7 separate regions of the Homo sapiens genome follow, and regions 2, 3, 4, 5, 6 and 7 are each reported to be linked to region 1. Evidence: microRNA targets listed by miRTarBase, many of them from high-throughput screens and not tested one by one. Region 1 holds a microRNA gene; each other region holds the end of a gene's coding sequence.
The links. The annotated mature microRNA hsa-miR-3681-3p reads ACACAGUGCUUCAUCCACUACU and lies in region 1 at 2,145-2,166, shown strand. An mRNA with a match to its seed (bases 2 to 7 or 8) in the 3' UTR can be bound and repressed. Matches are read on the target gene's strand: a 7mer-m8 pairs with bases 2 to 8, a 7mer-A1 pairs with bases 2 to 7 and ends in A, and an 8mer does both.

Region 2: miRTarBase lists LRATD2 as a target of hsa-miR-3681-3p. Seed matches in the 3' UTR shown: 7mer-A1 at 3,613-3,619.
Region 3: miRTarBase lists KIN as a target of hsa-miR-3681-3p. Seed matches in the 3' UTR shown: 7mer-m8 at 2,606-2,612.
Region 4: the mRNA of TMTC3 is a reported target of hsa-miR-3681-3p. Seed matches in the 3' UTR shown: 7mer-A1 at 2,180-2,186.
Region 5: miRTarBase lists DBR1 as a target of hsa-miR-3681-3p. Seed matches in the 3' UTR shown: 7mer-m8 at 3,259-3,265.
Region 6: miRTarBase lists CCNK as a target of hsa-miR-3681-3p. Seed matches in the 3' UTR shown: 7mer-A1 at 1,474-1,480 and 7mer-m8 at 2,302-2,308.
Region 7: the mRNA of SEC16A is a reported target of hsa-miR-3681-3p. Seed matches in the 3' UTR shown: 7mer-m8 at 658-664.

The regions. Positions count from the first base shown.
Region 1 is chr2:12,197,030-12,201,096 of GRCh38, forward strand. It overlaps MIR3681 (microRNA 3681), which reads left to right and starts at 2,101; the gene lies at 2,101-2,172. The region is part of intron 3 of MIR3681HG (MIR3681 host gene); the gene reads left to right.
Region 2 is chr8:126,553,024-126,557,090 of GRCh38, reverse strand. LRATD2 (LRAT domain containing 2) reads left to right here. Exons shown (of 2, transcript NM_174911.5): 2 at 1-4,067. The coding sequence ends at 634. Among named protein-coding and RNA genes, the nearest start is that of LRATD2, 3.4 kb to the left of the region's middle. RefSeq lists an enhancer at 189-338 and a silencer at 549-668.
Region 3 is chr10:7,752,439-7,756,505 of GRCh38, forward strand. It overlaps KIN (Kin17 DNA and RNA binding protein), which reads right to left. Exons shown (of 13, transcript NM_012311.4): 13 at 1-3,704. The coding sequence ends at 3,642. Among named protein-coding and RNA genes, the nearest start is that of KIN, 34 kb to the right of the region's middle.
Region 4 is chr12:88,195,248-88,199,314 of GRCh38, forward strand. It overlaps TMTC3 (transmembrane O-mannosyltransferase targeting cadherins 3), which reads left to right. Exons shown (of 14, transcript NM_181783.4): 14 at 1-4,067. The coding sequence ends at 402. Among named protein-coding and RNA genes, the nearest start is that of TMTC3, 55 kb to the left of the region's middle.
Region 5 is chr3:138,158,313-138,162,379 of GRCh38, forward strand. It overlaps DBR1 (debranching RNA lariats 1), which reads right to left. Exons shown (of 8, transcript NM_016216.4): 8 at 2,676-4,067. The coding sequence ends at 3,577. Among named protein-coding and RNA genes, the nearest start is that of DBR1, 15 kb to the right of the region's middle. RefSeq lists an enhancer at 2,137-2,638.
Region 6 is chr14:99,509,970-99,514,036 of GRCh38, forward strand. It overlaps CCNK (cyclin K), which reads left to right. Exons shown (of 11, transcript NM_001099402.2): 11 at 188-2,471. The coding sequence ends at 813. CCDC85C (coiled-coil domain containing 85C) reads right to left here. Exons shown (of 6, transcript NM_001144995.2): 6 at 1-4,067. Among named protein-coding and RNA genes, the nearest start is that of CCNK, 31 kb to the left of the region's middle. RefSeq lists enhancers at 1,335-1,836, 1,837-2,336, 2,337-3,337.
Region 7 is chr9:136,438,219-136,442,285 of GRCh38, reverse strand. SEC16A (SEC16 homolog A, endoplasmic reticulum export factor) reads left to right here. Exons shown (of 32, transcript NM_014866.2): 32 at 463-2,181. The coding sequence ends at 531. It overlaps INPP5E (inositol polyphosphate-5-phosphatase E), which reads left to right and starts at 2,441. Exons shown (of 10, transcript NM_019892.6): 1 at 2,441-3,678. The coding sequence starts at 2,867. RefSeq lists silencers at 2,283-2,482, 2,533-2,712, 2,773-3,262 and enhancers at 2,335-2,968, 2,969-3,603, 3,553-3,662, 3,604-4,067.

The DNA of each region.
Region 1 (4,067 bases):
AGTCACATCTTACATGGTGGCAGGAAAGAGAGAACTTGTACGGGGGGAACTTTGCTTTATAAGAACATCAGATCTCATAAGGCTTATTCATTATCCTGAGAACAGCACAGAAAAGACCTGCCCCCAGGATTTGATTACCTCCCACTGGGTTCTTCCCAGGACACATGGGAATTTTGGGAGCTACAATTCAAGATGAGATTTGGGTGGGGATACAGCCAAACCATATCAGTATACTTAAAGAGAGAGGCAGGAAATGAATGGTTTTAGTAGTATTGCTCACACTTAGCATTTCAGTGCTGTGACAGGGTAGGTAGTGCAAAGTGAGGGAACTAAGTTTGTGGGGAAACTGCTATCTACTGCTACATGACAGTATTACCACAAACCTGGAAGCTGGAAGCCACACACATTTATTATCTCAGAGTTTCTGTGGATTAGGAGTCTGGGCATGCGTTAGTTGGGCCCTTTTTAAGGTTGCAAACTAGGTGTCAGTAAGAACTGAGTACTCATCTGAGGCTCAACTGGGGAAGGATACACTTATAGGCTTAGATGGTTACTAGTAGCATTGAAATCCTTACAGGCTGCTGAACTGAGGGCCTCAGTTTCTTGCCAGTTGTCCTCAATTTTTTGCCACATAACTGTCCATAGGGCAGTGCACAACATGACAGCTTGTTTTCTCAAAACCAAGAGGAAAGAGAGTTTTTCGGTGTGATAGTCATTACAATCTTATACAACATTGTGAAGGAAGTGAAATCTGTTCCTTTCGCTGTATTCCATTGGTTAGAAGCAAGTCGAACGTCCCACCCACAGTCAAGTGTGTGAGTTCTACAGCAGCATGACTCCAGGAGGAGCACATCATGGGCGCCAACTTAAGTCTGGTCAACAAAACTACTGTGGATGGAGAACTATAAAGACATTGAATAATTAATTTTTTAATTTCACTCTGAGGCACATATTAATATGATTTTACAGATGAGTAAGACGAGCTTCTCAAATATGAAGACCCTTATTACTCCGCACTTGGTCCATAGCAACTCCCTGTAAACTTGTTTCTTTCCTTCTAGAAAATCCTCTCCAGTTCCATTTTCTACACAGCAACTAGAATGACAAAACAAATGTGATCACATCCATGTTCTGTTAAACAACCTTAGTGCTCCTCTTACCTCTTTAACATGATGGATACCATTGGCCCTTCATTAAATTGTCCTCAAACTACTGAAGCTTATAGTTTTTGGGGTCCCCTGGTGCCGTCCCCACAATGCACAATGCTCCTACACTTCCCCCATCTGAATGCAGGCCTCTTTTCCCTGCACACACTGAGCTTCATCTTCCTGACCCTCGGAGTTATCTGAGGCACCTGACTCCAGGTTCTAGAAAGTGAGATTCTCCATTATTTCTTCTCCCCACATTCCCTGGGCCTCACCTACCTGGAGATTATCTAGAGCTCTCAGCATGCTGCATGAAGAGCCTCCAGGTTTGAGTGGACCCCAGCTCCTGGGAGGCTCTCAGACTCCTTAGGAGCAACCCCAGTGACACCTTTCAGCATCAGGCGTCACTGCTGCATGCTCATTTCCTTCGCCAATCACTGCATAAACATGATTTATCTGTTGTACAGAGAGGCAACAGAAGCATTAGAACATTTGAGCTCCTTTTCCTGGTTGGCTGGAGGGGGCACTTACTTCTAGTAAGCGAGGTATTTAACATCTCTAGTCTATCATACACCAATTATTTAATATTAATTTTTATACATGCAACATTGGAGGACTAGGATTTGCTTACCTGTAAGGCCTTTTCTATCAGGATAGCATACTTTAAAGAGCCTGGAGAGGAACATAATTTTCCTTTTAAAAATAACAATTCCTGCCACGGAAGATGAATCCTGTAAGCATGCGAGCAGAGAAGCTGTACTGGATGAAGAAATCCTGTGCCCCTTTGGGTTCCCTTCACTATCTGACTGTCTCCTTCCCTCTAAAGCACAGCCTGCCTCCCAGACCTGCTTACCAACAACCTCTGATGGGACGTCCACGAGATGGCTGGAAGTCCCCAGCCTGCCTGGCTCACAAGCCCTGCACACCAAGCCCATCTTCAAGGAGACACTTGTCTACTTCCAGTAGTGGATGATGCACTCTGTGCAGGGCCAACTGTGCACACAGTGCTTCATCCACTACTGGAAGTGTCATGAGCTACTGTTCAGGAGTCCAGTGCAACCTGGAATTCTGAGGGTGTTAACTGTCCAAGTGGCAAATGGATCAATGGAAACAGGAAATAGGAAGGAGCTAGCTGGGTTATTCCCCCTCCTGTGTTTCTCCCATGTGCTACCCCAAGACAGAGATATTCGTTGTAATTTTCCTGGACAAGCCTAGGGCTGCCAGTTGTAACTTCAAGGCTTGTGGGGAAGGAGCAGCAAGGTGATGCATCACTTCACCTGGCATCCCAGATTTCTTTGCCTTTACTTCACTTCTTCCTCTCTTTCCTGGGTTTGCACATCCCAAATAAAGTCTTAGGTTTTTTTGTCTCAATGGCTCAGGCTAAGACAGAAGCCCAACTGTGAAGGCTACTCACGTTCTCACCCTGCTGTATCGTAGAATGGAGCTGAAATACAAAATTGAGATTCAACACATTCAGTCCCGACCAGAAACATTTCAAGGAAATCTGTGCTCACAGCAAGATTGAGTGATGGGACACAGCGCTTGAGATTTCAAGGCAAATGCTTTTTATGTCGTACTCAACATGATTAGCTTCACACGTTACCAAAAAAAAAAAAAAAAAAAAAAAAAACAAAAACCAAAAAAACCCCACAAAAAACTGACTCATAAAACATGTATTGATGTTGCATTTGGGAACAGCTGCAGCCAGCCTGTGTGCAGAAATACACAAAAATGATTATCTTCCTAAAATCAATCTTTGCAGTTCTGGAAGAAGACAGAAGACGGAAATAGCTCTTTGTGGAGCTGAGTGACATGTTCTGGCCAGGCATTCTTTGTTAATATAACAGATGAGAATTAGACAAATTGGAGCTGGAAAGCGCTCCTGTCATAATGTGGCTGATGGGTCTGTGGAACAGCAGCAGCCATGCCTGCAGGATGTGCTCACTGCTTTCCTGAGCTCCTTTTAAATAATCCAAGCTGTGACACTTCCCTAAGTGGAAGCTGATCTCTAAATTAGGTGAAATGTTAATATTATGTAGTTTAATCCATCCTTGAAGTCAGAGAGTTTGCAGAGGGGGTGGCTTGGGAGCCTCCTGATGGATTGTTCATTCATTCTTTCAGGCATTTATTCATTCATGTATTGAATTCAGAACTGCCCAGTAGAGCTTTCTGCTGTGATGAAGGGTCCCATAACAGCACTTTCTGATACTGTAGTCGCTAGCCATTTGTGACTACTGAGCACTTGAAATGGGGGTACAAGATGAATTTTTTATTGTATATGATTTCAGTTAATTTAAATTTGAGTAGTTAAATGTGGCTAGTGGCTACCGTATTGGATGGTGTAGCTAAACATTCATTCATTTAAAAATATTTACTGGATATCTACTAAAAGGCCTCTTAGAAGGTGCTTGGTAAATATTTTAGGGGAATAGTGGGTACTCAATATATATATTTTTAGTGACATGAGGAAGGCAAGCTGGGTCCACAAATATTTTTAGTAAAACAGGGACTAAATATTGTAAAACACACATACAATTTTATGAGACTAGATATACATATATCTGATGATAGAATAACTTATTTTATTAATTTATTTTTAATTCTATTGGTTTAAAATGGGCAAGGCAAAGATTAGGTATCTCTTCATGTCAAAGATATATTTGTGTTGAACCTGGAATGGAATTCCAAGCAGAGAGAACAGAGAAGGATGAGTAAAGGGTCCCAGAAATAGCTCTTTGGTTCATAGTGGATAAGACAAGAAGGGTCTAGAGGTTACACAAAGAGGCATAAGGATTGTGCACTATTTCCATCCAGGAAATATAAAGGCAAATTTTCAGCATGTTCAGATTAGAAAATTTATTGTAAGAAAAAAAAAAAAAAAAACACAAGAGAATTTCTGATTAGGATACAGAAGTTGTAATC
Region 2 (4,067 bases), not on the chromosome of region 1:
CTCGGCGGCGCTGAGTACCTACACGCCCGAGAACCTGCTCAACAAGTGCAAGCCGGGCGATCTGGTGGAGTTCGTGTCGCAGGCTCAGTACCCGCACTGGGCCGTATATGTGGGTAACTTCCAGGTGGTGCACCTGCACCGGCTGGAGGTGATTAACAGCTTCCTGACTGACGCCAGCCAGGGCCGTCGCGGCCGCGTGGTCAACGATCTGTACCGCTACAAGCCGCTAAGCTCCAGCGCCGTGGTGCGCAACGCGCTGGCGCACGTGGGTGCCAAGGAGCGCGAGCTGAGCTGGCGCAACTCGGAGAGTTTCGCCGCCTGGTGCCGCTACGGCAAGCGCGAGTTCAAGATCGGCGGCGAGCTGCGCATCGGCAAGCAGCCCTACCGGCTGCAGATTCAGCTGTCGGCGCAGCGCAGCCACACGCTCGAGTTCCAGAGTCTAGAGGACCTGATCATGGAGAAGCGACGCAACGACCAGATCGGGCGCGCGGCCGTGCTGCAGGAGCTCGCCACGCACCTGCACCCGGCGGAGCCGGAGGAGGGCGACAGCAACGTGGCGCGGACTACGCCGCCTCCCGGGCGCCCCCCTGCGCCCAGCTCCGAGGAGGAGGACGGAGAGGCAGTGGCACACTGATGGGCGAGCTGAGCGCAGAGCTGCGAAGGGGAACTGTTTGCAGTAGCAGCCGCTGCTCCCTTTCTCCCTCTCTTCCTCCCTCTTTTGCCACTGTCTGGGCCCCATCTGGGATTCCTGGGCCCTTTGGAAAAGAGTTGGTGAAATGCGCAGCCGGCTGTGGACGGGGGAGGAGGAAGGGGACAGAGGGAGCAGGTAGGAAACACTTTAGTTGGGGGTGGGGGGCGTCTCCCTCTGGCCCCCTGTCTGTCTTCCTCTCCGCGGTGGAGCAAACTGTGGACTTGCCTGGCACTTAAACCTTGGTAGATCTGGGTTTATAATCGGCCATTCTTAAGCACGTGGGGTTGGGGGAAAGTTCGGAGTACCCATTCCTGCCGTTGCTTCCTATCCTGGGCTTGGAAGAATCCTGGTAGAAAGGCCAGAGTGGGTTTGTGGAGTCGCCACTGCGGGACCAGCACGAAAGCTGCTTGTCTGCTTTGGCGGAGCTGAGCTGTGTATGGGATCCAGGAGGCTGGGGTGATTTATTTTATGGGATTCCTGGAGCGCAGGGCTGGTGAATCCATGACAAGGTCCGGGAGCAGCAGACCAAAACCACAGCAGCCTCCTATTAAGTGTAACAAATAGTTAAGCAAACTCGGGCTACAAACAAAGACTTTGCTACCTCCCTCCTCCACAACCCCCAAGTAATTAGCCTTCTGGAGCTGGCTCTTAGCTGAGGCTCCTGCTACCTCCTGCTCCACCCGCCCCTTCCTAGGTTACAAGTAAATCATTGTCAAGGGCCAGCCAGGGGAAGGTTTCAATTAAGGTTCTGTTCTGCTGCCTTTGTTTCTCCCCTGCTGTTGTAGGCACTTACAGCTGCGTTGTTATGAAAGGAGGGAATAGCCCTTTGTGTCTTTGATCTAATTAAACCTGCTTGGCTGTGTTTATCCGCAGGGCAGGTCACAGATAGGGTTGGCTGTGCCACTCCATAAAGTATCTATTGTGGAAGCAGCCAAAAAGGGCTGCTGTGGCAGGAATTGGTTAATTTCTCCTTCCACTTCCCTTCCTGAATAGTGAAGGGAGCCCTTTTAAAACAAGGCTTTGGTGGTAATCCTGTGATTTTTTTTTCTCCCCCATCCCCTCACTGGCCCATCCCTCTCACCCTCACTTTTGTTCTGCTGGTGGGTAAAATCTTAGGCTGAACACATATTTCAATGGTAAGATACTTATTTTGCTATCCACACTTGATGCAATTGAATTCAAGGTGCAAAGTCTTGTACTGAAGCAGTCTCCTTGTTGCTTGGAGAACACCTCCTTCAGAGCCCTTTGTTAAATAAGAGGGGCGACGTTGATCATAGATGCCACCTGGTTAGCACCGAATCTGACTTTGGTGACAGTCCTAAAGCACAGTTGGTGATTGTGAGATCTGTTAGCGGCAGGCTGAGCAGATACTACTTGGTTTTGCTTGGTATGAGATACTACTGTTTGCTTAGTATGAGATTTTTTCCAGCCTGTCTCTTAAACTCCTGTGACATCTTCAATGATATGTGCCCTCAGTTGCAGCATAGCTTCTCTGCTGCCTATTGCCATTGCTGTCTCAAAAGTTGAGTGAATTTTGAGGCGTCTTTTTTTTTTTTTCCTCTCTTGGGAGTCGTTGTAAACTACTGTGTACAAGTCATTTTGTGATATGATTCTGAACAGTTGGAATAGAATCATAGTTAAGTGGTACAGCCATGGCTATCGTCAGGCCTGTTGCCTGGAGATCTCTAAGTTAAGGCAACAAGACTTAAAGAATTTTCTAATACACTTGTTTCACACATGGACGTTGAGGCCATAGTCTTTAAAAGCTTGGACCTTTGTAGCACCTCAACATGAAAGGGCATTAGCTATGTTTCCTGTTTTTACAGTGATCACCAAACAGATCTTGCCACTTTGATTGTTAAAAATGAACCACATTCTAGCCCTGGTCTGGGACTTTGGAGGGAGATGAATTTCTTGTTGGAAATGTAAATCTAGTGTCCATATTTAATACTCTCACAGCTTTGTGTTTATTCTCTTTGCTCATGGAATAGCAGAACAAGATAAACATGGGTTAAGACATTTAGGAGAACCTGCTGTATCTAACCCAGTTGGATTTTCTTTCATGCTTAACACAGTAGTGAAAATAGAAGGTAGGCCGGGCACAGTGGCTCATGCCTGTAATCCCAGCACTTTGGGAGGCTGAGGCAGGTAGATCACCTGAAGTTAGGAGTTCGAGACCAGCCTGGCCAACATGGCGAAACCCTGTCTCTACCACAAATACAGAAAATTAGCTGGGCGTGGTGGCAGGCGCCTGTAATGCCTGCTACTTGGGAGCCTGAGGCAGAAGAATTGCTTGAAGCTGGGAAGCAGAGGTTGCAGTGAGCCGAGATCGCACCACTGCACTCCAGCCTGGGCAGCAGAGCAAGTAGTAATAACCACCGTGTAGACAAGTGGGAGGGAAGAATAGAATGGCACTGTCCAGCTCTGGGCTAGCCAGATCAACTCCCCCACCCGTCTTCTTCCTCTGTCCCAGAATGGAAAATGATGTATGGTCAGTCACGCTGAAGTATAGCAGCGACTGTGTTAAGAGAGAGCAGTGACTCTCTCTTCTAGAGAAGAGGTTTTCAATAACAGGGCTTGGAAATGAACTAGAATAGGAAATAGATCTTTTCAGATGCTGCTTTCCCATGTAATACAAGCGTTTCTACAGGGTACCAGAGGTGTGAAATATGTGACACTTAAGAACAGTGATTTTTATTGGGAATTTTCTTAGGGTTATTACACTTAAAGCAACAACCAACTAGTAACAGCTCCAGGAAAGGGGAATGAATCAACTCTTGGTTCTTTCCTGAAGACGGCAGTGTTGTGGATAAGTGAGTTTTTAATGCCCTGGCAGTGGCTACATTTGACACTTTAGAAAAAATAAACATATTTAATAATTTTTGTTTCTCCTTAGGAATAAGACTGTAGAACTGTTTTGTACTGTGAATTACGGATGCTCTTTGAAGGAAAGAAATATCGATTCTAATGTTCTTCAGAAGTTCTGGCAGGGATAAGCAGGACATCGACTGGAACGTATGCTAAATGAAAGCAGACAAATTTCTATTTTCTTACCTGAGCAAATATTTTATTGAAACTGCTTATGTATGTCAAAGGAGCCCACAACTTCAGCTACACAACTTTTTGTATTGAAAGAACTCATACTTTTTGTAGCTTTTATTTCACATTTAATTTAAAGTGACTTTTAGCACTAAAATGCCTAGAAGATTTTACTCCAGACCTATAAGGAAATGTTTAGTTTTTATGAAAAATGACAAGTCGATGGTTAAACTTCTCATGTCTTTGGTGCTTTGGCCCTAATAGCACTGGACAACACCACGACCACATGGAAACATATTTTTGGAAGCAAAACTTTAATTTTATATAACGTATGCTA
Region 3 (4,067 bases), not on the chromosome of region 1:
ATGCAGAGCAGCAGGAACTCTCATTCACTGCTCGTTTGAATACAAAATGGTACAGTCACTCTGGAAGACAGGTTGGTAGTTTCTCAGAAGACTCCTGGCATATGATCCAGCAATTGTGCTCTTTGGTCGTTACGTAAATAAGTTGAAAACGTCTATCCACAAAAAACCTGCGCACAGATGTTTGTAGCAGCTTTACTCATAATTTCCAAACCTTGTAAGCAACCAAGATATCCTTCAGTAGGTGAGTGCATAAACTGTGGTGCATTCAGACAATAGAATATGCAGTGCTAAAATGAAGTGCGCTATCGAGCCACAAAAACCTAACCAAAACAACATGGAGGAACCTTACATGCATATGTTCTACCAGGTGAAAGAAGCCAATCTGAAAAAGCTACACCCTGTGTGACTCCAACTATATGACCTTCGATGGAGACAAAACTAGGGAGACAGTAAAAAGATCAGCGGTCAGCAGGGATTTGGGGGGAGACAGGGAACAGACAGAACACAGGAAACTTCTAGGGCAGTGAAACTGTTCTGTGTGATACTACAGTGGCAGATGCATGTCATTATACATTTGTCAAAACCCACAGAGACTGCTCTAAAAAGTAAAGTCTATGTTTGAAATAAAGAAAAATAGCTTATGATACTTCAAAAATCAAAGTCTAATATGAGACCTGTTGTTAGTTATCTGCAGTCATTTTGCTTAGCATAAACTCTATCAAGTTCTACAGACTCAGAGGGAAAAAACTACTGTGAAGTCTATAATCGTATTTTTATGCTTCAGATATTTTTTATTGAATTTAACCTCAAGTATGCTGCCTCATTTCATTCTGAAATAATTTCAGAAAGACGTTGGAGAATTAAATGTGGGAGGCAGACATGAAACATTTTTTCTCTGAAGAAAACCACCAAGTTGATTCCAAACGTACATACTTGGGGGAGGCATATGTAATTTGTCTGGTTTTACTCATCACTATTTGTTATCAGGGAGAACCATTCTCCTTTTTGAAATTCTTCAGACCAGATTCTTAGTAGTCCAGGCTCAACTTCTTGGCTTCATTTCTGGACATGACCACTCACTGCCATTTATTCAATACCTACTATGTGCTGGACTTCATGTCTGATGATTTATATGTATTTTCTGTAGGTCTCCCATCAACCCTGCTGAAAAACATTTTGACAATTTATACATTAAAAACATTGCAATTCAAGAACATTAACATTCTAATATTACAAAGCCAATGAACAGAACTGCCAGAATTTGATCTAAAGACTGCCCACACCCAAAACCCAGTTGCTTTCCATAATGTGCTGTCAGGTTACTTTGGAAAAACCTTAATTCATCCCTGAGGAACATTTTCTGTAAAGCTTCTGCCATCATCCTATTAGTATTTCTTTACTGCCTCTTACATTTCTGCTAACAGCATACGTTCTCCCATCTTCTGAGAATAGAAGCAATCAGCCCTCCCTGACTCTCAGTTAAAGAGAGAGATCCCAGGGTTTGGCACCATACCTGTGTCTGACGTCAGCTTATACCCATCCTCATGTTTGAAGTGATCATCCTGGTATGGTCTGTTTTTTGTTTGAACTCTTGTAGAAGATCAACTCAGGCAAGGCGTGGTAGCTCACACCTGTAATCACAACATTTTAGAAGGCCGAGGCAGGAGGATTGCTTGAGCTCAAGAGTTTGAGACCAGCCTGGGCAACATAGCAAGACCTCATCTCTACTAAAAATCAAAAAAATTAGCCAGGCATGGTAGTGCATGCCTGTAGTCCCAGCTACTCGGGAGGCTGAGGTGGGAGAATCAATGACCTAAGCCCAGGAGGACGAGGCTGCAGTGAGCCATGATTGTGCCACTGCACTCCAGGCTGGATGACAGAGCAAGACCCTATCTCAAAAAACAGAACAAAAAAAAAGAGGCGTAGTGGCTCATGCCTGTAATCCCAGCACTTTGGGAGGCTGAGGCGGGCAGATCATAAGGTCAAGAGATCGAGACCATCCTGGCCAACATGGTGAAACCTCATCTCTTCTAAAATTACAAAAATTAGCTGGGCGTGGTGGCGCATGCCTGTAGTCCCAGCTACTCAGGAGGCTGAGGCAGGAGAATGGCTTGAACCCGGGAGGTGGAGGTTGCAGTGAGCCGAGATTGCACTACTGCAATCAGCCTGGGTGACAGAGTGAGACTCTGTGTCAGAAAAAAAAAAAAAAAGAAAAAGAAAAGATAGATCATCTCTCTCTTCCCGGTGCTGCTGAAGGGTAAGATGTAAACCTAGAGTGCTCAAGAATGTAAATGTAGAGAGCCAGCACAGGAGCCAGAGACAGAGCGGAAGCCCAGGGAAGGCTGTTCACACCCGGTCCCGCTGCCCTGGAAGCTAGCGTCTGCTCCTTTCAGTCATGTGCACTACAAATATCCCTTCGTTTTTCCTTTGGCACAGGCAAATGTGGGTTTCCTGTCTTTTGCATTCCCTAATAATACACTGCCCTACTTATTTCAAACTGTATGGTTAGGCAGGGTGCTGTGGCTCACACCTGCAATCCTAGCACTTTGGGAGGCTGAGGCAGGAGGATCACTTGAGCCCAGGAGTTTGACAGCAGCCTGGGCAACACAGTGAGACCATGTCTCTAAAAGTAAAAAAATTAAAAACAAATAAAACTATAGTTCAACATTGCTGGTAGGACTGTAAAATGGTATAGCTGCTCTGGAAGAGTTTGGCAGAAGCGAAAGCTTCTGTTCACATAAAATCCTGTAAATGGGTGATCATGGCAGCATTATTCACAATAGCCAAAAAGTAGAAACAATCTAAATGTTTATCAGCTGATGAATGGACAAACAAAATACGGTACATCCATACAGTGGAATATTAAGCAGCCATAAAAACAAATGAAGCACGCCTACATGCTACTGCATGGATAAACCTTGAAAACATGATGCTAAGTGTAAGAAGCCAGTCATAAAAGATCACATATTATATGATTCCATTTATAAGAAATGTCCAGAAAGGGCAAATCCATAGAGACAGAAAGTACATTAGTGGCTGTCTAGGGCTAGGGCAGAGGGGAAAAATAGCGATTGACTATTAAAGGGTTTCATTTTGGGGTATGAAAGTGTTTTAAAATCAGACAGTGGTGATGGCTGCACAATTCTGCAAAAATACTAAAAACCACTGAATTGTATGTATATTTTAAATGAGTGAACTGTATGGTATATGAATTATTACCACAATAAAGCTGCTTCTATATTTATAGTTTGACATTTAAAATTTAGTCACACTTAGAGTTCAACTTTACTACTCTACTACTGAAAATATAGAGTGTATGAAGGATTTCCTCCAATTACATGATTCTAAATTGTCATAGATAAAACACTTTATAATAACATTCTTTAATGAAGATATAAACTCATCAAGTAAATTACAAAGGAAACAAAAATAACAAGGACAAAATTACATAGTTTGATACCTCATGAGACATAATTAAATTCTTCTCAAAGTTTAGCTGAACAACTATACAGTAATATTTTCAAAAACCTGTTTGTTTTATACAAAAGAATATACCCTAACACAGTAGAGTCTCATAATGCCTTGGCGAACACCAATTTGATGCTTTAAGATTTTAATGTATTGTTAACAAATTTTCAAACTCAGGCAAGTTTAGAAATGTCTTCATATTGAATTCCTTCAACTCTGCGTCCTTTTAAAGGGCCCTACAAATTAAAATAATTTAAAATAAGGTTAAAAACACATATTCCTAAAAGACAAAAAAATGACACCATACTTATGGATACAAATTTGCCTTTTCCGCATCCCTAAAATACCATTAAGATTGTTAACATTTGTATACATCTATGAATTTTAAGAATAATCTATGGCATTCTCATTAAGAACTACCATATTTTCTTCTGTGACATCTGACATACGTTATCAATAGACATTGTGGCAGAGACCTGCAAGCTGTTCAGTATCTCCTCTGCTTCCTGGATAAATAGCCAGTTTCCTGGCTCCCTTGTGGTTAGCTGTGGCCATGCATGGAGCTCCAGCCCATGAAAGCAAACAGAAGTGACGGTCCA
Region 4 (4,067 bases), not on the chromosome of region 1:
TTTGAAGAAAAAGACTTATTAAAAGCTGAAAGATGCCTTCTTGAAACACTGGCATTAGCACCACATGAAGAATATATTCAGCGCCATTTGAATATAGTCAGGGATAAGATTTCCTCATCTAGTTTTATAGAGCCAATATTCCCAACCAGTAAGATTTCAAGTGTGGAAGGAAAGAAAATTCCAACTGAAAGTGTAAAAGAAATTAGAGGTGAATCCAGACAAACACAAATAGTAAAAACAAGTGATAATAAAAGTCAGTCTAAATCCAACAAACAATTAGGAAAAAATGGAGACGAAGAGACACCCCACAAAACAACAAAAGACATCAAAGAAATTGAGAAGAAAAGAGTTGCTGCTTTAAAAAGACTAGAAGAGATTGAACGTATTTTAAATGGTGAATAACATTAATATTTATCGTGACAATGGTATCAAAGAACATCAATCCGTATCATGTGATTGCTTTTACTGGGAGCTTTGAAAAAAAGTTCAAGGGTTCCTAATGGTCAATCATGAGCTGCCTTGAAGTAGGATCAAAATAAGATTTTCATTAAAGACCTGTATTATCCCAGGATGTATATTATGTATCGCTGTTTTCAGAGTGTGGGTGAATATAGCAGAAATATTACAGCGGAAGTGACAAATTTACAACTTTTATTATAGAAAGAAGGTGTTTCTGGCAATGTAATCTTTACTGCTCTCAATTAAAAATAATTTTGAGGCCTGAATGATAATCCCTTGAGGACAAATCCAACATGTGCTGGTTTATTCTGTTAATTCCCATTTATTTGCCTACTTCATTTTTCTTGCACCTCTTAGAATCTAACTATGAATTGAAAACACTTAAGTAATTCTGTTTAATCAAGGGATTTACACTACAAAAGAATGCTGGCTTTTTTTATGTTGTATTCCTTAGTTGAGTTTTAGAAGGAATGCTTGATGAAACATTTTAAAATAAGTCATGACATGTTAGCTTGAGAATGTATTTTCATAATTGTATACTTGTTTTTAACTTTAAATGTAATTTTTAATCAGGTAAAGTTTGACACATGTATAGCTACATACACACATTTTTAATGGTGCTCATATATACTGTATTTTTTGTTGTTTAGTTTTACTTATTGAGAGTGTCACAACATGAATCACATAATCATGATTTTTTTTTTTTACTTTTACTCCCCAAATTATTCATGTTTCTTAGATCGTAGTCATTGAGAAGTCCCAATAACTCTAAACTTTTGAGTTATAACGTAGTAAACTTCTCTTTCATCTTTGTGTTAGCTCTGTAGTCTTAACCTGGATTTTAATTTTTTTGTTTCCAAAGTCACAATTGAATTATTCTTAGATACCTTAAGCCACTGAATTCAGTTCTGTTTGACTGAAAGCAAAACAACGTGACAGTTTATTTTCAAACACTAACTTCTTGATATTTTGTTATGGTATATCTTTTTATTAAATATTTATTTTGACTAAGCTTTCATAAAATATTTGAAGCTATTTTAATCATCAAGTATGGAAAACAAATTACTATTGCATTTTCCTATATATGCATATATTATGGATTAACCAGAATTGTATCATTTTTGGCCTAATGTCTGGATATAAAAGATAATTAGCCTACTATAGTATTAATAAATTTTTCAGTTGGTTTGGGCAAATTTAAACCTGAAAAATAGGTTAAAAAGTAGTTACAAATTAAACTTACTAATTTATACCTGATTTTTTTTCTTGAATTAAAGTACATTTTAAATGAGCTTTATAATACCTTAAAAAGTTGGTTCTAATTTAAAATATGAAAGCTCTGGCTATCATCCTGGGATAGTAATTTCTAATTATATAGTATTTCAAAACTATATATTTTTTAGTTCCTTTGAGATAACTAATTTCTAATTATATATGTTTCAAAAACCATATCCTGTATTTTTTTTAAGAATTGTTTTATAAATAGGTCATAAGATACAAGGTCTGCATTAGAAGACCCACTCTTACTAGGTTCCCTAAGGATCTGCCATAGATTTTTTTTTTTTTTTTTTTTTTTTTAGGTAGTTTAAAGCAAGCACTGATACCAGTGGGAGTTGGTCTTGATCTAGGAGATTCTGTTAAGCATCCAAAAACAATGCCTAATTTCAGTTCTTAGGTTATGGCTTGTGACTCCAGATAAAAGATGGAGAATACCTCATGTACTGTGACTTGAAAATGAATTCTTAAAATTCTTAGGCTCTCTCCATGTATCTTTCTTAAGGAAAAGTTTCTGAGTGTGATCTCTCTTTTGCCATAGTATCAAGTGGAGGGTAGTTCAGAAAAGTTAATAGGAAATCTTTTGTGACAGCAGACTATAATAGAAGTTTGAGTAATATTTTAATAAATTTATATAATTCAAATGATAAAAATGTATCAATGTTATCCAATGATTTTTATTAAAAAATTACCTTATTATTAGAACTGTGCCTATTACATAAAAAGTGCTCATGTATTTGAATTTTAAATAATTTATTTAAATCAAGACCACCATAAGTCATTAATAATTTAATAATTGTTTTAAATCAGTGGTTTTCAACCCTCACTTCATATTAGAATCATCTGAGGACTTTTAATATGGAATCCACCTCATAACAATTAAGTCTAAATTTCTGGAAGATGGAGCCATGCTTGTTTTTCCAAAAGCTCTTTGAGTGATTCTAATTTGTAGTCAGAGTTGAAGACCACTGCTCTAAATTAGTGCAGGAAAATGCTTTTATTTCTCCCATGTTAACTTTTAAAACTAGTAATGTACCCAGTTAAGTTTTGATGGTTTAAATTCCACTAAAGAACATATTCTTCTAATAACTAGCATTTATTACATGAAATTTAAGAGTTTAAGTTCCATCAAACTAGCCCTTGTGTAAGATTATTATTTCTTCTCTATAACTTCAAAATAGATATTTCATTCAAACTGTTCAGGTGAGAAAACATAATGGATTTTTTTTTTTTTCCTCTGGAGCTGCCTGTTCAGTGAGATGGAGGAGGTGGGCACATTTAAGGTCAGTTCACTAACCTATGGTTCAGAGTTCTGATCATATGGAAGTTTGGAAAAGAGAGCTTATCACAGGTTTGTATGCTGGTGAATGGATAGTTTTAATTCTCACTGTCTCAAAAGAGAATCAGCTCTCCAGCAGTTCTAGAAAAGCTTTGACAATCCCCAAGGGGCAGTGTTACCTTACTCCTTCACTGCTTCTTAGAAGGTAGAATTAAGTTTCTGGAATTGCACCTACATGTTTTCTTATTAACATTCAGAATTGGGAATATTAATTTTTCCAGTGAGTAGTTTTCTGAAATTGGTAACTTGGAGAGTAAAATAACGTATTTTGCTTTTCAATTTTGTGTTTGTTTACTTTTATGTAAAAATTTGATATGTGAATTACACAGTTCTAATAAAACCTCATGCCTTTTCATTACATCTAATTTGAACTCTCAACTTCATGTTACAGAATGCTTTAAAGATGCTTTAATGAAAAGTATTAAGAAAATATATAGATTTGTATGTCAGTTTATACTTCAGAAATCCATATATTTGTCATATTTATTTTTTTAGAAACCTCCTAATTGGATAACTAGATGGTATTTAAAATGAATGCCCAAAAATATCTTGTACCTTTGTCCAAAAGTTTATCTGTTGGAAGCCGCCAGCCATTCATGTAGAGAGTTTATAAGAAAATAATTTAAAATTGTATGCATTTTATATTACTATGGTATCTGTGTACCATATTTCTAAGTATTCATTATTAAATTGGTACTTCTTAAAACCATAACCTGGCTTGCCTTTTAGTGTTAAAAAAATACAACATTGTATATAGAGATTTCTTTTATGAAGAAGAGCTGACGTAATTTATTAGCAGTGATCTGAGAAAGACATTAAATAAGTTTCTGAGAGTGATACATTTTCAAACATGAGGAGTGACAACCACCAAATTAAGAAAAGGAAACAACTCAGACTTGGAATTTTATACGAATTTCATTTCTATATGTGCCTGGTATTGCCTCTGGCATAACTTAGAGGAAATTGTTCTACCTATATGTCCTCAGTTTCTTCA
Region 5 (4,067 bases), not on the chromosome of region 1:
GCAGTTGCAAGATCACAGCTCCCTACAGCCTCAACCTCCTAGTCTCAAGCAATCCTCCCTTCTCAGCTGCTCAAGTATCTGGGACCACAGGCATGTGAAACCACACCCAGCTAATTTTTTTTTATTAATTTGTAGAGACGAGGTCTCACTTCAGCCCAGGCTGGTCTCGAACTCCTGAGCTCAAGCAATCCTCTTGTCTCAGCCTCTCAAAATGTTGGGATTACAGGCATGAGCCATTGTGCCTGGTCATAGCTTTAAATACTTTATGTAAATAATGAGAATAAAAATAAGTGGGCCGGGCTGGGCGTGGTGGCTCAGGCCTGTAATCCCAGCACTTTGAGAGGCCAAAGCGGGTGGATCGTTTGAAGCCAGGAGTTTTGAGACCAGCCTGGCCAACATGATGAAACCCTATTTCTACTAAAAATTCAAAAATTAGCTGGTCATGGTGGCGGACACCTGTAGTTCCAGCTATTCAGGAGGCTGAGGCAGGAGAATCGCTTGAAGCCAGGGGGCAGAGGTTGAAGTGAACTGAGATCGCACCACTGCACTCCAGCCTGGGGGACAGAGCGAGACTCTGTCTCAAAAATAAATAAATAAGGGCGGGGCGCAGTGGCTCATGCCTGTAATCCCAGCACTTTGGAAGGCCGAGGCAGGCGGATCACGAGGTCAGGAGATCGAGACCATCCTGGCTAACACGGTGAAACCCCGTCTCTACTAAAAGTACAAAAAAATTAGCCGGGCATGGTGGTGGGTGCCTGTAGTTCCAGCTACTCGGGAGGCTGAGGCAGGAGAATGGCGTGAACCCGGGAGGCGGAGCTTGCAGTGAGCTGAGATCACGCCACTGCACTCCAGCCTGGGCAACAGAGCAAAACTCCATCTCAAAAAAAATAAAAATAAAATAAATAAATAAATAAATAAAGCAAGCCGGGACCGTGGCTCACGCTTGTAATCCCAGCACTTTGAGAGGCCGAGGTGGGCGGATCACGAGGTCAAGAGATTGAGACCATCCTGGCCAACATGGTGAAACCCTGTCTCTACTAAAAATACACAAATTAGCCGGGTGTGGTGGCATGGGCCTGTAGTCCCAGCTACTTGGGAGGCTGAGGCAGGAGAATCGCTTGAACTCAGGAGGCGGAGGTTGCAGTGAGCCGAGATCATGCCACTGCACTCCAGCCTGAGTGACAGAATGAGACTATCTCAAATAAATAAATTAATTAAATTAAATAAGTGGGCCAGGCGAGGTGGTTCATGGCTGTGGTCCCAGCACTTTGGGAGGCCAAGGCAGGTGGATCACCTGAAGCCAGGAGTTCGAGACCAGCCTGGCCAACATGGCAAAACCCTATTTCAACTAAAAATACAAAAATTAGGCCGGGTGTGGTGGCTCAAGCCTTTAATCCCAGCACTTTGGGAGGCCGAGGTGGGCGGATCACCTCAGGTCAGGAGTTCGAGACCAGCCTGACCAACATGGAGAAACCACATCTCTACTAAAAATACAAAAAATTAGCCAGACGTGGTGGCACATGCCTGTAATCCCACCTACTCGGGAGGCTAAGGCAGGAGAATTGCTTGAACCCGGGAGGCGGAAGTTGTGGTGAGCTGAGATGATGCCATTGCACTCCAGCCTGGGCAACAAGAGCAAAACTCTGCCTGAAAAAAAAAAAAATTAGCTGGACATGGTGGCAGGCGCCTGTAGTCCCAGCTACTTGGGAGGCTGAGGCATGAGATTCACCTTGAAATACCAGAATTGCCTTGAACCTGGGAGGTGGAGGTTGCAGTAATGAGCCAAGATTGTGCCACTGCACTCCCACCTGGGTGACAGAGTGAGACTTTGTCTCAAAAAAAAAAAAAAAAAAAAAAAAAAGTAAAATGAGTGAATTATTCAACTCAAAAAAGAAAGTAAACCAAAAAATGGAAGGAAATAAAAATAAAATCCCCCAAATCCTAGACCGTTATTAAGTCAAATGTTGACAAGGTAGAAGCCAAGTGCTACATTATTATTCTCCTAGATTAACTCCTGGATTTAGACTGCCATGGGATGATGAGATCCTGGAACAATCTTGGATTCCACGACTTCTGATATGAAGTACGGAGTGACAATCTCTTCAGGTGGCCCAGGTATTTTAACCAGAGATAGCACAGAGGTGTAGTTTTTCTATATGGATCTTCAAAAATACTTTAATTTAGCAATCCATCACGCAGCATGAGGGGCAGTTATTTGTGCAGCTTGATCCTTGCTAGTAATTAAAACTATGGGGTGAACTATGCCAAAAATGACCTACATAGTTACTATAGTTACATGAAAATTAAAGCTAAAGTTAAAACACAATATGCTGGCCGGGCACAGTGGCTCACGCCTGTAATCCCAGCACTTTGGGAGGCCGAGGCGGGCAGATCACGAGGTCAGGAGATAGAGACCATCCTGGCTAACACGGTGAAACCCCGTCTCTACTAAACAAAATACAAACAATTAGCCAGGCATGGTTGCGGGAGCCTGTAGTCCCAGCTACTCAGGAGGCTGAGGCAGGAGAATGGCGTGAACCCAGGAGGCGGAGCTTGTAGTGAGCCGATATCTCCCCACTGCACTCCTGAACGACAGAGTGAGATTGCATCTCAAAAAAAAAAAACAAAAAAAACTCAATATGCAAAAGTCAGCAGGGTTATACTAATCTCAGCAAATTAAGATTGTACGTTTACCAATGTTTAGTATTCAGAGTAGTTTATTTCCTGAAATCTTATATACCATCTTCAATTTCAATTTTTATTTGACAGATATTAAAAGCTGATCAGGAAAAATATTTATAATAAATGAAAAGAAAGCATACATCATAATATATACAATGACTTGATTTTATAAAACAAAATATAATATAGCCATATTGTATACATCAAAATGTTTACAGTGATAACAAGTCCTTGGAGGCAAAAATCCTTGTCTTACTCATCTTTATGGTCCCATATTATAGCAGAGTGCTTGGCACAGAGTAGATGTTAAGTAAGTGTTTATTGTAAAAATGGAAGTGAATAATGTATGTCTTCAAAAAAAAAGATACCCAGTCAAGTAAATATATGAAACTTTAATATGTTTGCATCTGAAACATACAAAAGCCTAAAGATAAAGTCAATATCTAACTAAAATTCTCTAATGTATCTTCATTATTATAAAGTTAAGTCTTTAGTCAAAAATTCAGCTCTAAAAATACAGTCTCAAAAAATCACATATCTACATATAATACTAAGACAAGTAAATTGTCGGCCAGGCACAGTGGCTCACGCCTGTAATCCCAGCACTTTAGAAGGCCAAGACAGGTGGATCGCCTGAGGTCAGGAGTTGGAGACCAGCCTGGCCAACACGGTGAAACCCTGTCATTACTAAAAATGCAAAAATTAGCCGGGTGTGGTGGCGGGCACCTGTAGTCCCACCTACTTGGGAGGCTGAGGCAGGAGAATTGCTTGAACCTGGGAGGCGGAGGTTGCGGTGAGCCGAGATCACGCCATTGCACTCCAGTCTAGGTGACAAGAGTGAAACTCCATCTCAAAAAAACAAAACAAACACAAAAACAAAACAAGTAAATCATCTTAAGCTGCATCGTCATCATCATCATCCACTGCAGCGTAAATGGCTTGATTCCTCCTCTTAATTTTCTTTCTTTGTTCAGGTTCATGTTCATCACTCAGCCTCTTCAATGGCACCTTGGTTAAGTCCTCTCCATTCCCTGACTCCACAGTCCCACCAGGTTTCCCCTCTCTATCAATTGTGGAATCCACCGTATCATCAGAAGATACAATCATAGAGCCTGGCAAGATCCTGACATCAGAGAAACTTGCAGAAAACTCAGAAGCTTGATCAGAAGGTTCTACCGATGGTGTATTCATGCCACTATGTGCACTTACAATACTATCTTCATCTTCTTCTTCATCTAACATTATTTCATCTGGATTAATAGAAGACAGAGCAGATGTGTCTGTATTATATTCACTCTGGTCTTCTCCAGAGTCATTACTCTCCACATCATCCTGTTCTTCATATTCACCACACACATGATGTTCTTCCTTGGACTTCTGAAGCC
Region 6 (4,067 bases), not on the chromosome of region 1:
CTTGACAGATGGTGGGGAGACATCTGGTGGCATCAGGACATGGGGCATGGGCCCATGCGTTGGGCCACAGAGGAGGCGGGCAGCTGCTCCCTGCTCCTCTGTAAAGATGGCCCTGAAGGGCCAGGAGGCACTGAAAAAGCAACCATTGCTGGCGGAGGCCGGGCACTGATGCGTCTCTCTCCTGCAGACCGGAAGCCTCCCCTCGCTGCTGCCTTAGGTGAGGCTGAGCCGCCGGGCCCTGTGGATGCCACTGACCTCCCCAAAGTCCAGATTCCCCCTCCGGCCCACCCGGCCCCTGTGCACCAGCCACCGCCGCTGCCACACCGGCCCCCGCCCCCACCCCCCTCCAGCTACATGACCGGGATGTCCACCACCAGCTCCTACATGTCTGGAGAGGGCTACCAGAGCCTGCAGTCCATGATGAAGACCGAGGGACCCTCCTACGGTGCCCTGCCCCCCGCCTACGGCCCACCTGCACACCTGCCCTACCACCCCCATGTCTACCCGCCCAACCCGCCCCCGCCACCTGTGCCTCCTCCCCCAGCCTCCTTCCCCCCACCTGCCATCCCACCCCCTACTCCTGGCTACCCCCCACCCCCACCCACCTACAACCCCAACTTCCCACCCCCACCCCCACGCCTCCCGCCTACCCACGCAGTCCCCCCTCATCCTCCTCCAGGGTTGGGCCTGCCGCCAGCCAGCTACCCACCTCCTGCCGTCCCCCCTGGAGGACAGCCTCCTGTGCCCCCGCCCATTCCCCCACCCGGCATGCCTCCAGTTGGGGGGCTGGGGCGGGCAGCCTGGATGAGATAACGTGAGCCTTTTTTCCCTCTTTGTTTTTTTAACAAGATTTTCTAATCGACTTGCAGAGTAGTTGAAGTGGGTAAGCAGCAGGGTACCTTGTATAATGCACGACAGTTGCAGTATGGGAAGAATGGACCGGGCCCCTGGGATAAAATCAGAGTGGTCCTCACACCTAGAGGACGGGGACAACCAGCTTTCAGAGTAGCCTCATCAGTGCCCTTGCAGTCTGACTGTGTACACTTGGTTCAGCTAATGTCTGAGAGTCCTGCACTGGGTTACTTTATACTAGTGAGGACGTTAACCAGCCATATTGGCTCAATAAATAGCTTCGGTAAGGAGTTAATTTCCTTCTAGAAATCAGTGCCTATTTTTCCTGGAAACTCAATTTTAAATAGTCCAATTCCATCTGAAGCCAAGCTGTTGTCATTTTCATTCGGTGACATTCTCTCCCATGACACCCAGAAGGGGCAGAAGAACCACATTTTTCATTTATAGATGTTTGCATCCTTTGTATTAAAATTATTTTGAAGGGGTTGCCTCATTGGATGGCTTTTTTTTTTTCCTCCAGGGAGAAGGGGAGAAATGTACTTGGAAATTAATGTATGTTTACATCTCTTTGCAAATTCCTGTACATAGAGATATATTTTTTAAGTGTGAATGTAACAACATACTGTGAATTCCATCTTGGTTACAAATGAGACTCCTTCAGTCAGTTATCCAAATAAAAGCAGTTCTGAAACTATCCCTTTCTTTGTTATGGGTGGAAGGTGGGGCTCCAGGCCTTCGCAGTCTGTGGCTTATAAAATGTGCAGAGGCCCTCCTTCCAGACCCTGGGGACGCGGGAGAGGCCTGGCTGCAGCTCACAGCAGCCACAGCCAACCCCACTGCCTCCCAAGGCACTCTGGGTGGATCCGCACAGCTGCCTGCCAAGCCAGCCTGCCCCCATCCTGTGCCTGCCTTGGTTTCCTTTGGAGGACCTGGTTGAGTTCCAAACCAGTTTGAAACTTTGAAGCCTTGCTGCGTAGAACGCACACAGGAACCCGGGGGCTTGGATTTGAAACCCTTTCCACTTCTGGCCTGTGATGAGACAGAGGCAGCTGGAGGAGCAGCGGCCTCACTGTCCACCTTGAGGGGCCACGGCTCTGTCTGTGGAAGGGGCCCCGACTGAGCCCCCATCTGCGGTGCTTGAGGGGCCTTGGCCCTGTCTCTGCCTGCTGACCCTGCCACCCACGACAGAAACAAGCACTGAGCACCCAGCCAGGAGGCTCACAAAGAGGCCTTTATTTATCTAGCTCAAAGTAGACACTATCACAATCTTGTTTGTTACTCCTTTTACTAAAATAGTTCAAATCAATGTTTTTACCACACTATCAAAAAGTTCTATTTCTTCTTGTCTCCCCACGTCAGAGTGGTTGAATAGAAGGTAGAAACAGGCCGGGAGTCCACGGGCTCCCAGCTCTAAACGGCGCCAGGGCAGGAAGGGGTGGCTCCAGGTCTCACTGTGGCACCTTCTACAGAAAATAGACGTAGCTGCCGGGCCCGGGGACAGAAACCAGACGTTCCAGTCCATCTCCAAAAAGCAGCACAAATACTTTGCCCCACAGTATGAAAAATATACACCTCTACCGCTCTGCAGTCATGCATTTAGTTTTAAGAAAAAAAAAAAATCAGTAGTATGTATCTTGTTTCCTCAAGTTTCAAGAAAAAAAAAATGAAAGGTCACTTTTTTCTCTTTAAACACTGATGTGTAGCTAGTAACTTGGATAAAAAGGTGCCACCCTACAAAATGTGCTCAGCATGTTCTGAGGCCAGGATGGGCTTGGCCACCTGGGCTGGGGCGAAAGGAGACCTCCATCTGTCACAGTGGAAACTGAAGCCGAGTGCCAGTGCCGCGTCCGGCTTCAAGATCAAGAGTCAGAGCCTTTGAAATGGAAAGGGGGCATCTGAAAGGGCACCCCCACTGGGGGCTTTCAGAGCTAAGGCTCCAGAAGGAAGGGGGTCGCCCTGCTAGTGACGGAGCTGGGAGTCACCCTGAGCTACAGCATGCCCAGATTTCCCCTGTGGGAAGCCCCATCTGACCTTCTACAGCCCACGGCTCTGCAACTGCCACCTGTACTCAGGTACATGGCGTCGCTGCTGCTGGCTTTTAAAATCAGCTATTAGTTTGAGATGTGACAGTCGCCGACAGGGTTCTGTCCTAGAAAGCCATCCCAGTGCCGTGTTGGCTCAGGGGTCACCAGCTTTGTGCTGCCTCCGTAACAGCAGGAGGGTTCTCAAAGCAATGTTCCACTGATCCCTGGATGCCACTGCAGCATTAAAGACAGGGTCAGTCCCCTTGAGGGGAAAGGTGGCTTCAAGGCTGTTCTCTGGGCCTGTTTGCAGGAGATCCGCAGGTACCAGGAGCCCGTACTTATTGCTTATTTCAGTGGTGGCCACGCCAACCTGACCCAAACATGATGCACACGGGCTCCCAGACTTGGCTGCCACTCAAAATGGACCCACAGCCCTTGGGCTACTCTGCGGTTCTTTGGACTGCAAGACCCAGAGGGGCCTCTGCTCAGCTGCCCACTCGGGCAAGAATCACTGGGTACCATGAGCAGCAGGTGTTCACCCAACTTCACGTGTACACCCCTAGTGACCGGGAGCGCACCACCTGACCGGGCGACACTCCTTCCCAAAGAGCCTCCTGGCAACACCCACGGCAGGAGCGCCACACCATCCCATCACCAGCACCCACTTACCCCCCTGGGGCTAAGATGGGGGGCGTGAGCCTTTCCCCTGAGAGCAAACGGGCAGCAAGAACTGCTCAGAATAGAGCCGCCAGCTAGGGAGAGGGACAGGGCGGCCATCTCCCTCCTCTTGCCTGCATCCCCAGCCCTGGGCCTGCATGAGACCTGCTGGGTAGGAAGACAGCCTCTCTGGGCTCTTCAGGTGGGGCTGAGCAGCCCCTGGAAGAGCACAGGAGTCTGACGAGGACCTGGTGAGGTCCTGGACCCAAGAGCTAGGGCTGCTTACAGTGGCATGAGCGGATGTGGGGAAGCGGCCTGTCCCCGTGCTGCAGCTGTGGGATCAAAATCCCTGTCATGTGCCACACATCACCCCCTCTAGGCCTTACTTTCCTCACACACACAGTTTTCTATTGCACTTTACAGTTTATACATGGTCATTTACACTGAAGATCTCACTTGATGCCAGAATCCTGTGAGGAGGGCCTTATGCTGCCCATTTTACTACTGAGGACACGGGCTCAGAGTGGGGAGGCA
Region 7 (4,067 bases), not on the chromosome of region 1:
TGTGGTTAGTGCCTTTACAAAAATTCCTTGGCTTTCCCCTCCATGAGGCTTTGCGAGGGAGCAAGAGTGGATGCCTGCATTGGCCAGCTGTCTGCAACTGAGGTCCCCGCGTCCCATGCAGTAGGCCAGGCCTGGCCACCACTTGTCCCTGGACTCTGGACAGCCAGGCTGGCTCTGCAGAGCAGCTCCAGGTCTCATGGCCCTGATGAAACCACGGCACCTCCTGGCCACCCTCACAGTAAACATTGATGGTTAAGGATACAGTGCTTTCAAGGGAGCCCAGGACTTGGCACTGACTTGTCGGTTTCCAGAGGCTTTTGGAAACAAAAACGAAGCCTTCAGCTTGTCAGCGCCAATGGCCCGTGTGGTTCATTATGTGGACCAGCCCCTGCCACGCTGCAGCCGAGCACTGCTCACCCTGGGGGCAGGCATGCAGAGGTCATGCTGTTGATTTCATTCCAGGCCTGCGCCACCTCCGGGAGCTCAAGGCTAGGGAGGATTGGCCAGAGGAAGCACCTGGTGCTGAACTAGGCTTGCCCTGCTGTGAACTTGCACTTGGAGCCCTGACGCTGCTGTTCTCCCCGAAGAACCCGACCGACCTCCGCGATCTCCGTCCCGCCCCCAGGGAGACACAGCAGTGACTCAGAGCTGGTCGCACACTGTGCCTCCCTCCTCACCGCCCATCGTAATGAATTATTTTGAAAATTAATTCCACCATCCTTTCAGATTCTGGATGGAAAGACTGAATCTTTGACTCAGAATTGTTTGCCGAAAAGAATGATGTGACTTTCTTAGTCATTTAGGATGATTTAAGGATATAGTATTCCTGGTCATTTAAGAATGTTCATTCATTGAAGCCGGAGCTGTCTCTGCCACAGGAGAGCCACATGGTCGGTAGTAACCAGGGCCTCTCCAAGCCCAGCTGTGAGTCACTGCCCAGTGAGTCCCGCGCTTCCTTTAAGGTGCTGGGAGCAAAGAGAGGGTGACTGAGGCAGACCCCAACCCCTGCTCTGCACCATCTGGGCCCTCGCCGTGTTTGAACCTGGCTGAATGAGTGGAGGGCGCTGTGTTCTCAATCAGCGCCTCCGAGGAGCCGTGGGGTTCCTTCGGCATTAGTTCACGGTTTTTGAGAGAGGCCTTAGTTACTGCAGTGAATTTCTTTCCTGTTGCAAAGACGCTTCCAGCCTCACTTTACTTTCTGTGGCCTGATGAGGACCATGGGTGATTTTGTGTACCCAAAGCGCTGGGGACTGCCCACCGTGTGGCCCAGTCACTGGGAAGGAGCCCCAGAGAGCCGGCTGTCTGACATGATGGCTCAGGGTGGTCATCCAGGTTGAAAACTGACCGTGTGATGTTTGATTTGGGCTTCATTTCGTGTGTAGGAGCACGGTTAGACTCACTGTTAAGGAAGCTGGATGCACTTCTCTAAAAGGCTGCACTTTCCGTGAGCACTTTTCGTGGTACAATCCACATGACCCACTTTCTCCCCTGGGGGACGTTGGTTCAGAGGTTGGTAGCACTTGGGGAGAGTATCTTAACACAGTTTCTTGACAGCAGCTCTGGAACTTAGTATTTCTGCCCCGAGTTTTGCCACACTGAGACTTTGAGTAGCTCCTGGTGGACTCAACCCTGTTCAACTCAGAGACGGGCCTCCTCTCACTGATGCAAAGCTTTAAGGCTTCTCTGACTGTTCTGAAACTCTTCGTATTCTTGTCAAGTCTAAAGAGACTGAAGAAAAGATTTAAATACTAATAAAAATCAGTAGATAATTTCTGTAGGTTCTGCTGGAGGAATACAAACTGTTTGGTGTTTTAAATTTAAGTGTAGAAATTGTAGAATGTGGAATTAGCACAGATCCTTCCTGGCTTTCTGTTTCACTTGATCATTTAGCCCAGACCACCCAGGATGTTTTCCAAAATGTTCCACAGGCGTGTCCCGCTGGATCCATTTGTCCTTGTCACTTGGAGAAAGGCCAGTCCCTGTGACGGGGCAGCCCTCTCTGTCCCTCGGTCAGCTCGTGTGAATCCTGGGACCTCTTCCGGTCGGCTCTGCCCGCTGTTCTGGGGTCGACTGCCACGACTTTTGATTCAAGAAGCTTCCTCCAGGCGGGAGCGGCTATTTTTCCTAAATGAGAATTGTTACATTGCAAATTGTTGAATAAAATATTTTGCGCTCCTTCAAGCACCTTCACCTGTGGTTCCCTTTGGTTTGCTGGAAGCGAGTGAGTGCAGGTGTCCGCAGGCCTCGGCGCTGTCCTGGACCGCACCCAGGTCCTCTCCGGGGACCTGCACCTGCCTCGCTGGGACCTGCCGGACTGCGGGGCTGCCGGGTTGGGAGGGGCGTGGGAGACCCGTCCGGGTCCGGTGCGGCGCAGTCCTCCGGCCGCCAGGGGCCGCTGTGGGCGGGGCCGGGGCGCGGGGCGGGGACCGGGCGCGGCCCCGCGGCGGCGGTTGCTGGGTCCCGGCCGGGCTGACTCCGCTTCTGGGCGGCCGGGCCTCCGCGAGTACCGGGTCGACTTCGGAGTCTGCGAGCCCAGCCAGGGGTGCCCGCTTCCCACCCCTCTCCCCGAGCGGCGTCCCCGTCGGGGTCGAACCTCCCCCGCGACAGGCGCCCAGCCGCCTGTTCCCCCAGGCCTTGCCTGCGGACCGCCCTGGGAACGGCGTCTGGGAGCCCCGAGGGGCTGGCGGGACTCGGGGCCCGGGCCATGCGGCAGCCGCCCCCGCCCCTCCGCGACCATCCCCGGCCCAAGCGGGAGCCGCAGCGGCGTTTCTGCTCCTCGCTGCGCCGGCGACCCCGGACCCGGCACCCGTGACCCCTCGCGCTGCCTGCGGCCTCGCGCCGAGGCCTGCCCCGGGAGAGACCGTCCATGCCGTCCAAGGCGGAGAATCTGCGGCCCTCCGAGCCGGCCCCGCAGCCGCCGGAAGGGAGGACGCTCCAAGGACAGCTTCCCGGCGCTCCGCCGGCCCAGCGCGCGGGGTCCCCACCCGATGCTCCGGGCTCCGAGAGCCCCGCGCTTGCCTGCAGCACTCCGGCCACGCCCAGCGGCGAGGACCCGCCAGCCCGAGCAGCACCCATCGCCCCGCGGCCCCCCGCCAGGCCTCGACTGGAGCGAGCCCTGTCCCTGGACGACAAGGGCTGGAGGAGGAGGCGTTTTCGAGGCAGCCAGGAGGACCTGGAAGCCCGGAATGGGACCAGTCCCTCCAGGGGCTCAGTGCAGAGCGAGGGCCCCGGGGCCCCCGCCCACAGCTGCTCCCCGCCCTGCCTGAGCACCTCCTTGCAGGAAATCCCCAAGTCCCGCGGGGTCCTGAGCAGTGAGAGAGGGAGCCCGTCCTCGGGGGGTAACCCTCTCTCTGGGGTGGCCAGCAGCTCCCCGAACCTCCCGCACAGAGACGCCGCCGTGGCGGGGAGCTCGCCCAGGCTGCCCAGCCTGCTGCCCCCGCGCCCACCGCCTGCCCTGAGCCTGGACATCGCCTCCGACTCCCTGAGGACAGCAAACAAGGTCGACTCGGATCTTGCAGACTACAAGCTCCGCGCGCAGCCGCTCCTGGTGCGGGCCCACAGCAGCCTGGGCCCCGGCCGGCCGCGGAGCCCCCTGGCCTGCGACGACTGTTCCCTTCGCTCGGCCAAATCCTCCTTCAGCCTCCTGGCGCCCATCCGCAGCAAGGACGTCCGCAGCAGGTAGGGAGGGCCTGGCGGGTGCAGCGCCCGCGCCGCCTTCGTTGTAGTGTTCAGGCTGCTGGAACCTCGTGAGACCGTTCCCATCAGCAGCGTTTAAGATGCCTAACCGGAAAGAACGAAGCGGGTCTCCCGCAGCCACCCCATCTCCCAGCCCCACCCCACAGCAGCGCCCTTCCCAGAACTTTTCCTGTGCGTTTCAGAACCATTCGTGGGCGTGACGTTGTGTTAAGGTAGACAGGATGGCATCCTGCATACAATTACGTATCTGGCGCTTTTTCTTGTTTAGTCTTGGGAAATGTCGTCAATGTATACGATCCGCCCCTTTGGTTGTTTTTGTTTGTTACTCTCTCTGTCGCCCAGGCTGGAGTGCAGCGGCGCGATCCCGGCTC